3 linked regions of the Homo sapiens genome follow. The protein of the gene in region 1 interacts with the protein of each later gene in a biochemical or structural test. Each region holds a gene or a part of one and is shown on either strand. Other genes may lie near its edges.

What was found.
Region 2: the proteins of SELE (region 1) and SELPLG form a complex in vitro, tested with the Homo sapiens proteins (one large-scale study listed by IntAct).
Region 3: the proteins of SELE (region 1) and CEACAM1 form a complex in vitro, tested with the Homo sapiens proteins (one large-scale study listed by IntAct).

What each region holds. Positions count from the first base shown.
Region 1 is NC_000001.11:169,731,280-169,735,223, forward strand, and holds the start of SELE (E-selectin precursor), read right to left. Parts: upstream 2,801-3,944; 5' UTR 2,692-2,800; intron 2,382-2,691; 5' UTR 2,334-2,381; coding exon 2,297-2,333; intron 1,720-2,296; coding exon 1,336-1,719; intron 664-1,335; coding exon 556-663; intron 1-555. UniProt on the Homo sapiens protein: Cell-surface glycoprotein having a role in immunoadhesion. Mediates in the adhesion of blood neutrophils in cytokine-activated endothelium through interaction with SELPLG/PSGL1. May have a role in capillary morphogenesis.
Region 2 is NC_000012.12:108,627,395-108,630,894, reverse strand, and holds part of SELPLG (P-selectin glycoprotein ligand 1 isoform 2 precursor), read left to right. Parts: intron 1-2,145; exon of another isoform or gene 2,146-2,249; intron 2,250-3,500. UniProt on the Homo sapiens protein: A SLe(x)-type proteoglycan, which through high affinity, calcium-dependent interactions with E-, P- and L-selectins, mediates rapid rolling of leukocytes over vascular surfaces during the initial steps in inflammation.
Region 3 is NC_000019.10:42,509,144-42,511,481, forward strand, and holds part of CEACAM1 (cell adhesion molecule CEACAM1 isoform 1 precursor), read right to left. Parts: intron 1,778-2,338; coding exon 1,746-1,777; intron 86-1,745; coding exon 1-85.

The sequences.
Region 1 (3,944 bases):
TGTGCTAAGGAATCTTGGAGAGAAGCTCATCTAACTCTCTTAATGTACAAATTTAGGAACTGAGACCTCATTTCATTCAAGTGACTTGCTCCATGCTACACGGCTAGTCATTACAGAGCCAGAGGCCAGAGCATGAACCAAGATACCCTGGACTCTGTAACTCACTCATTTCTACTGCAACGTCTTGTTACCACCTAGATGAGGTGAGTACATGTTCCTCGCAGGGACACAGAATTACAGTTTATTGAATGTGTCCTGTGTGCCAGGCACCATGTAACCATGAGCCTATGAAGTTCACACTATTATTATCCTCATTTTACAATGAGAAAACTGACATAGAGAGTTAAACTATCTTGTCAAGGTGCCAAAATAAATAACTGGTGAATCTAGGACTCAAACCCAGCAGGGTCTGACTTCATAGTCTCAGCTCACGATCACCATATGACACCATCTGCACCAGGGAAGGGAAGGCATGCAGACCTGACTCTAATGCCAGCTAGGACGTGAGATGGTGCTACCATCTCAAGTGAAGAAAGAGGCAAGAACCAGACTTACTTTGCTCACACTTGAGTCCACTGAAGCCAGGGTCACACTTGCAAGTGTAATTATTGATGGTCTCTACACATTCACCGTGGCCACTGCAGGATGTATTGGTACAGGCAGCTACGGAAAATACAAAGCATGATGAGGAGGACTATTACTGTGCTTATACTGAGTGCCTTTGATTTTAGAATCAACAGTGTGCAACAGAGACATCAGCAGTCCTACAGAGTGCCATAGACTTTAACTGAAGTGTTTTACAAAGTTCCAAATCTGAGTTTCAGGCCCACCTATCCTAAACCTTGATGCTAATGTATAGCTGTGGCTGGCACCTACCGTAGAAAATTTACTTCTTCACAAACTCTGAAGACAGTTCCCCTACCACAAATAAACAAGTAATTAAAATATGTATTGTGTGTGTGCATTTTTATATGTAAAGAACTACATATTTGCCTACAGTATTTATATATATTTTATATATATACATACACACATATATGTGTGTATATGTGTGTATGTATATATATAAAATGTATATAAATGCTGTAGGCTATATATATATACACACACACATATATGTGTGTGTGTATATATGTGTGTGTGTGTATATATATACATATCCACATATTCTTGCCCACATTCACACAAAACAGCAAAAGAGAGAAACTTTAGCAGTTAAACAGAATCTTTTGGAACATAAAATGACCACAATAGAGAGCAGTTTTTGCATGCTGTAAATTTGCCAAGATGCCCACACACTGAAACTACCTCCCACTGCTGCCGCAAACTCCCTACCTGTGTAGCATAGGGCAAGCTTCTTCTTGCTGCACCTCTCATCATTCCACATGCCCACATCTTTTTCTCTCTTGATGTAGATCTCCACGCAGTCCTCATCTTTTTGCCTATTGTTGGGTTCACCTGGAGCCCAGTTCTTGGCTTCTTCTGTCAGAGGTTTCTGGGTTCCTACCCAGACCCACACATTGTTGACTTTTCTGATTCCAATCCAGTAATAACTTGGTGAATAGCTCAATATGGAGTTTAGGTACTCAATCTCTTCTTTGTTTTGAATTGCAACCAGGTGTGTGTACCTTTGCTGACAATAAGCACTGGCCTCATCATAAGTCATAGCTTCCGTGGAGGTGTTGTAAGACCAGGCTCCACTCTCTTTAATGAGAAGCACTAGTGGGAGAAAAAGAAAAGAAATGGTAGAGTTTGGTACTGTTGTGGTTTAACTCTGACAACTGTGCTTTTTATTGTCTTATTTTTGGCAATGTTTGTGACATGGCCCAGACTTTTCTCATCTTTTCAAAAGTAAGAAGTACGTATGAAGAAACAGCGACTTATTGTTTATCTCTTTTGTGACTGCCACCCACTAGGTACCTTATCCACACTCACTCACAACATTATAGTATACCCATTTTGTAGTAGAATAATAATCAGAATAACTAAGCTTTATTGAGCACTTAGTATGCACCAAGAAGCACTGTATGAGGTACTTTCCATGAACCATGCTATTGAATCCTCACAATGCATCTGGGAAATAGGTCATTATGATCCACACTTTACACTTAAGGAAAGGGAGACACCAAGAGGTAAAGTAAATGACCCCAAGCCCAGGGAAGAACACATTGCAGGTAGAGGTCAAGGATGCTGCCAGATATCCTGTGCAGGACAGCCCCAGACAAGCAAGGATATTTCAGTCTGAAATATCTATAGTGCGAGAATGAGAAATCTTGGTCTAATGGCACTGACTTACCCAAAGTGAGAGCTGAGAGAAACTGTGAAGCAATCATGACTTCAAGAGTTCTTTTCACCCAAAGGTTTAGGCTTGAAATACTTTCCTGGGGAGATAAAACACAAAATGAATTAAAGAAGGAAATCGTGGGTAGCTAGTTACATTATTCTACCATGATGTTTAAGGCAGCATCCTAAGATTTTGGGCAAAGGACACTAGTGCAATAATCTTTATTTCAGAGTTTAATCAAATAAATAAACAAATTTTAAGACTTTCATTATTTAGGTCAAAGAGAAAAGACAGGTTTTAGCTACAATACAATAAGAGCTTGTACAGATGTGGTTTTTATTAGAAGGCCTTTTGCATATCTGTGTTTCATGGCCCGAGGCTGCCCTTATAAAGCGTTCTGCACTTACCGTTTTGGGAAGCAGTTGTTCAAACACAGGATCTCTCAGGTGGGTATCACTGCTGCCTCTGTCTCAGGTCAGTATAGGAGTTTTGATGTGAAGTCAGCCAAGAACAGCTGAACACTACTTCGGCTGAGGCCCTTTTATAGGAGGGATTGCTTCCTGTGAATAATAGGAGGATATTGTCCACATCCAGTAAAGAGGAAATCCCCAATGGCATCCAAAAACTTTCCCGGGAATATCCACGATGCTTAAAATTACAATGATGTCAGAAACTCTGTCTCTTGAAGCTACTTCACCTTTGTCCATGCCTTTATATCGTATATGCAATTTTATTAATATGACAAAAATGCATGATTTTTAATTATAATAACATAAAGTCTATGTCTTTAAAAAGTTGTAAAACTTTGCTTGTTAGTAGTGTCTCTCATGTAGTTGTGGTAGTAATTAGAATTTCAGAAACAGAAGGAAACCAAGAATAGGTTTGTCATCCATAGTCTACTACCTTCAATTTCTCATTCATAGCTGTGGATAACCAATCACTACTCATTTTTTCTTCCTTTTTCACCTGCCAATTCAACATATTTAACATGCACTGTCTCACAGAGGAATGACTCACAAGGTAGATATTAATCTTCAGATTTTGCACGGCAGTTATGCCTAAATTAAAATATTATCTAAAAATAATATCTAACACTCAAATGGTTAAAATAATGCCTTATTTTAAAAAAAGAAAAATGGGAAATAGATATTTACATCTGGGAAAGTTTCATGGTTTGTTCAGTGAAAAAAATAAAAAGGAGGCCAGGCACAGTGGCTCACGCCTGTAATCCCACCACTTTGGGAGGCCGAGGCAGGCGGATCACCTGAGGCCGGGAGTTCAAGACCAGCCTGACCAACATGGAGAAACGCCATCTCTACTAAAAATACAAAATTAGCTGGGCATGGTGGCGCATGCCTGTAATCCCAGCTACTCGGGAGGCTGAGGCAGGAGAATCGCTTGAACCCGGGAAGTGGAGGTTGCAGTGAGCCAAGATCACGCCAGTGCACTCCAGCCTGGGAAACGAGTGAAACTCTGTCTTAAAAAAAAAAAAAAAAAAAGAAAAGAAAAGAAAAAAAATAAAACGGAAAACTATATATATATATTTAATTGGTCAAAATTTTGTTTAAAATTTTTGAAATGTTAATGTGCAAAGAATAAAAATTCTTCCACAATGTTAACAGTGACTAACTCTGGATGGCAGGATTTGGGATAATTTTTA
Region 2 (3,500 bases), on another chromosome or scaffold:
GATCAGCAAGACAGCTGTGGTTCCTGCCTTCTGGAAGTTTAGGAGTCAATGTGAATACATTTTTAGAAAATAAATGAACAGCAGAAATGATTTAAACACGGGAGGTGACTAATCGTGCCTGGGGCAATCTGGAAAGGCTTCTGGGAGGACTCAGCATTTCCCTGGCCCTCTTCAACCCACAACAACCCCATAAAAAGCGGGTGCTACCATTGTCCTTGTATTCCAGCTAAGGAACCCACAGCTCAGAGAGGTGAGGTGAGTTGCCCCAGGTCACACAGCTTCTAAGGGACAGAGCTGGGGATTGACCTGGTTTGATGTGACTCCCAGGGCACAGCAGGGCAGGGCAGGGCCTGTCCTGTCTACCCAGACTTAGATCTGCTGCCTGTGCCTCAGTTATCTGGGGTCTTTCCTTCTCTTGGTGACTACTTGACCCAAACCCTGAGATGCTCAGTCTTTTGAATTTTAGCATTCCAAGATCCTGCCCGCTCTGACCACCAGTTTCAGGATTCTCAGTGCAAGGTTCCTAGCGGCGTGGAGCCCCACGAGGATCTTTCCTGAGCAGCTCAGGGCGGCCACACGGCGGGTTCTCTGGAGCTGGAGTCTGGGCCCCCTGCAGCCTGCTCCTCCACACAGCCTAGATGGGGCCCATATGGGGTCTAGATGGGGCCTGGGCCAGAAGCAGCCTGGTTTTAGGGCGAAAGAGGCAAACGAGCAGTCTCTGACCTACTCTGTTAGGCAAGTGTTGAGACAAATAGGACGTGGTCACTGGAGACGCCTCTGTCGGAGCCCTGCCCTGGCCCCACTTCTGTGGGACTGTTTTTTGGCCTTCCAGGAAGAGGAGAGGTGGAAGGTGGGGCCTGGGAGTGATCCCGCCGCTCCGGGCCTTGCTTGCTAATCAGTGTGATGGCACCGTTAGAGCCAGTGAACACAGGGGTGAGGAGGAATGAGGTCACCAGATAGTGAGAGGATGAAATCATCCCTCCGTGGGAGGGGCTTCCACATATGTCATTTTTATTGTTGTATAATACATTTACTGTAGCAAATATTAAGGAGGTATTATGCTACCTGCCATACACGGTGAGAAAACTCAGCTCCTCCCCCTTCTACCTGTGTGGCCTCAGCTGAGACAAGATCTCTCAGAGCCTCGGGTTTTCTTTTCTTTCATTAAAAAAAATATGTTTTTTTCTTAGAGACAGGGTCTTACTCTGTCACCCAGGCTGGAGTGCAGTGGTGCGATCATAGCTCACTGCAGCCTTGACCTGGGCTCAAGCCATCCTCTGGCCTCAGCCTCCCGAGTAGCTGGGACTACAGGCATCACCAGCATACCTGGCTAATTTTTAATTTTTTTGTAGATATGGGTCTCAGTATGTTGCCCAGGCTGGTCTTGAACCCCTGCCTTCAAGTCATCCTCCTGCCTTGGCCTCCCAAAGTGCTAGGAGTACAAGCTCGAGGCACCGTGCCTGGCTGAGCCTCAGATTTTCTTTCTGTTAGATGGGCTGATGCCTGCTCAGCTGTGGCCTGGCTCCAGGCTGCTGTGTCTTAAAGCCAGTGGGATGGCAGGGACCAGGCTGGGGTGACCAACAACCCCCCACCCCCAGTTTGCCTGGGAGTGAGGGGTTTCTGGGGTTGAGGGACTTTCAGCACTGACACCAGGAACATGTAGGATAAGGTGGTTGCTTTAGACGGGCCCAGGAAAGGAGGTCTGGGCTTTCCGAATGTACCAGGTCTTATCATAACAGGTACGGAGGTCTCTGCTTTCTCAAAGCCCAAACACCCACAGGGGAGGTAGAGAGGCCGCCATCTCCATACCCTCTGAGTCTGAGACCTCCATTTCCTCTGCTCATCTGCCTGCAGCGCCGAAGAGAGTCCTCCAGATAAAGTACCCCCGGCTGGAAGCCAGCGTCTGGGAACTTCCATACACTCATTCAATTCTCATGATGATTTTTTTTAAGCAATATTGCCGGTTTTACAATGAGGAAACTGAGGCTTAGAGAGGGTGAAGCAACCTGCCCGAGTTTACACAGCCGCTAAGTGGGGGCAAATGTGGGATTCAGGCCCCAGCCTCTCCTCCACCCCAGCTGTCTCTGGGTGCAGGAGGCTGTGGGGATGGCTGTAGGGGAAGGGTGGGCAACAGTGACAGCCTACCTGAAGAACTGGGCCCCAGCACCCTCCGTGTTTCTGTGTTATTCTCCCAGCCTCCGGCCTGCTGCAAGTCCGGCCCTGACTCACCAAGATGCCTCCCCCAACCCGGGAACCAGGGAGACCAGGCCTTGCAACTTTGCCCCCACCTTCTCTGCTTCCAGGAAGTGGCTGAGGGCTTTGCCTTCCAGGAACAGAGAACTGCCCAAGTGGGGGTTGGTAGCTGTGAGTGTGCTCATAAGTATGAAATATGTCTCTAGGCTAATGGCTTCTTCCTAAAGTCCCTGCCTCCAGGAAAGTGGGGCCAAGGTTGGGCCGTAGATTCTTCCCCCAGATAAGAACTCTACCCCAAAGAAATTCTGCTGCCCTGAAGGCAAATTGGGAGGCAAAAGTGTGTGTGTGTGTGTGTGTGTGTGTGTGTGTGTGTGTGTGTGTGTTACATTTATTAAGCACCTACTGTAAGCTTGGAACTTTTGTTTTCTTGTTTTGTTTTGAGACAGGGTCTCACTCTGTCGCCCAGGCTGGAGTGCAGTGGTACAATCTCGGCTCACTGCAGTCTCAACCTTCCAGGCTTAAGCGATCCTCCCACATTAGCCTCCCCAGTAGCTGAGACGATAGGTGTGCATCATCATGCCTGGCTAATTTTTCTATTTAAAATTTTTTTATTTTATTTTTGAGGCAGGGTCTTGCTTTGTCACCCAGGCTGGGGTGCAGTGGCATGATCACAGCTCACTGCAGCCTCAATCTCTCCAGGCTCAAGCAATTCTCCCATCTCCGCCTCCTGAGTAGCTGGGACTACAGGGGCACACCACCACTCCTGGCTAATTTTTTGTATTTTGTAGAGACGAGAGACAGGGCTTCACCATGTTGCCCAGGCTGGTCTGGAACTCCTGAGCTCAAGCAATCCACCTGCCTTGGCCTCCCAAAGTCCTCGGATTACAGGAGTGAGCCACCGTGACTGGCCTAATTTTTCTATTTGTGTCGAGATGGGGATCTCACTATGTTGCCCGGGCTGGTCTTGAACTCATGGGCTCAAGTGATCTGCCTGCCTTGGCTTCCCAAAGTCCTGGGATTACAGGCATGAGCCACCATGCCCACCAGCCTGGAACTTTTGAATCTATCCCCTTGTTGCACTGTCTCAACAGCCCTGTGAGATGGGCACTGTTTCTTATCCCAATTTTACAGATGGGAAAACTGAAGCTCAGGGAGGCAAGCATCTGTGTCAAGGTCATACAGCTTGTAAGGGACAGAGCTAGGACTTGAACATCCTTTTTGTCTGACCCCACATCTATGCTTTCAACCCTATGCCCTGCATGGCACCCGGTAAATATGTGGCAGGCCTTTCTGGGGGACATAACTTT
Region 3 (2,338 bases), on another chromosome or scaffold:
TGGCTGTTAGGGATGGGGAGGCTGAAGTTGGTTGTGTGGGTTGCTGGGCTTCAAAGTTCAGGGTAGAATAAGTAACTTCATTCATCTGAAAAGCACAAATAATGATCAGTTAAGTCAGTGACACAGGGCAGGGCCTCACCTTGCCTGGTGTGATTCAGCACCACAAGCTGTTACCATTTTGAAATTTTAGCTCTGGAGAAGGGCTTTTGTTGTTACCCATTCTCTGCTTGCTGACCTCCTGATGAATGATCATTAGAAGAGAGAAATTATGGTATATATGCAATGGGATAGGATAATGCAGCAATGAGAACCAGCAAACCACAAATACATACAATATGGATGAGTCTCACAAAGCAATGTTGAAGAAGCCACATATAAGGATATGTTTTATTTCTCCTTTAGATAGGAACAAAACCAAGCAATACTAATCTGGAGCATTAGAAGTCAGGATAGTGGTTACTCCTCTTTGGAGGGAAGTGACTGGTAGAGTTTTTTTTTTTTGCGACGGAGTCTCGCTCTGTCGCCCAGGCTGGAGTGCAATGGCACGATCTCGGCTCACTGCAAGCTCTGCCTCCCGGGTTCAAGCGATGCTCCTGTCTCAGCCTCCCAAGTAGCTGGGATTACAGGCATCCACTACCACGCCCGGCTAATTTTTTGTATTTTTAGTAGAACAAGGTTTCACTATGTTGGCCAGGCTGGTTTAGAACTCCTGACTTCTAGTGATCCACCTGCCTTGGCCTCCCAGAGTGCTGGGATTACAGGTGTGAGCCACTGCACCTGGCTGGAAGGGTCTCTTTTTAAGGGGAGGTCATGTAGTATTTCATGATTTGGGTGCTGCTTACCTGGGTGTGTTCAACTTGTGAAAGTTCATACATTGTGAAAGTATAATTATGATTTAGCACTTTTCAGTATGTATGTTTGCTCTATTGAAAAGGTAAAATGAAAACTTCTTTTTTTTTTGAGACAGAGTTTCCCTCTGTCGCCCAGGCTGGAGCGCAATGGCGCAATCTTGGCTCACTGCAAACTCCACCTCCTGGGTTCACGCCATTCTCCTGCCTCAGCCTCCCAAGTAGCTGGGACTACAGGCGCCCGCCACCACAGCTGGCTAATTTTTTTGTATTTTTAGTAGAGCTGGGGTTTCACCATGTTAGCCAGAATGGTCTCGATCTCCTGACCTTGTGTTTCACCTGCCTTGGCCTCCCAAAGTGCTGGGATTACAGGCATGAGCCACTGTGCCTGGCCATAAAATGAAAAATTCTATAAAATTATTATTAAAAAACAGGATCTCAGATCTATTAAAATTGAAATTATCCTTTTGACAATAAGAGCAGGATCAGACTGAAGGTAGGGGAGTGAGAATGATTCAGTGCCTTCCTTTTTTAGGCCATTGTGCTGGGTGCTCTTTGTAGGTTATCTCGTTTAATCCCTTCAACTTCTCTTTGAAGTAGGCAGAATGCCCATTTTACAGATGACAAAGCTGATGATCAAAGAGGTTAAGTTACTTGACAAGGGTCACAGAGCTACTAAGAGTCACATCCAGTATTCAGACACAGGATGGGAATAATTCCAAAATGCATGTTCTTGCTGCAAAGTAGACTCATGGGAGTGATTACAAATACGTCTTTGTTGTTGCACTGAGGAACATTAACCCAAACTTGATGTTACATTGTGTCTTCATGAATAATCAATTCTACACAGAATCATTTCCATGAGAAAATAAGCCCATGAAAACCGGCTATGCTTACCTTGTTAGGTGGGTCATTGGAGTGGTCCTGAGCTGGAGAAGCAAAAGAAGAGTTAGCGATCCATGGAAATGCAAAGCTGACTTCAGGTGATTCTAGCTGAAGGAGGTGGCAGTTGGAGGGTGGGGAGTTTAAGGATCAGTTAAGGAATTTACTTCCCTCAGAGTGTATGGTCCAGACCCAGCATGTTAGTACCAGAGAGGGGGCAGGGGCAGAACCACAGGAGGCCACAATCCACTTGTGAAGAGTTCTACCAGTTCACAAGGCCTTGATTTTTGCCCAGATGTGTTTCTCAGCAACATGCTCCAGTGGCAAGGAGGGGCATTGAGACTTGTAGCACCCACAGCACCCACAAGATAAGGAAAGTCTCACCAAGGGAGAGTGCCCACATCCGTAATAGAGGCAGGAGGCGGAAGGAGTAAGGCTGAGGAAATGGCTCCTGGAAACATGGGATCTTCCTCAGGCCTGCCTGGCCTAGGCAGAGTGAGCCTCTCTCCTCAGATGTGTCTCAGGGGACTCCTGTGGCTAGGAAGGGTGGGAAGACCTATGCCACCTTAGGGTTGGGAAATAGAGATCCTTTCTGTGAAAATTCAGAA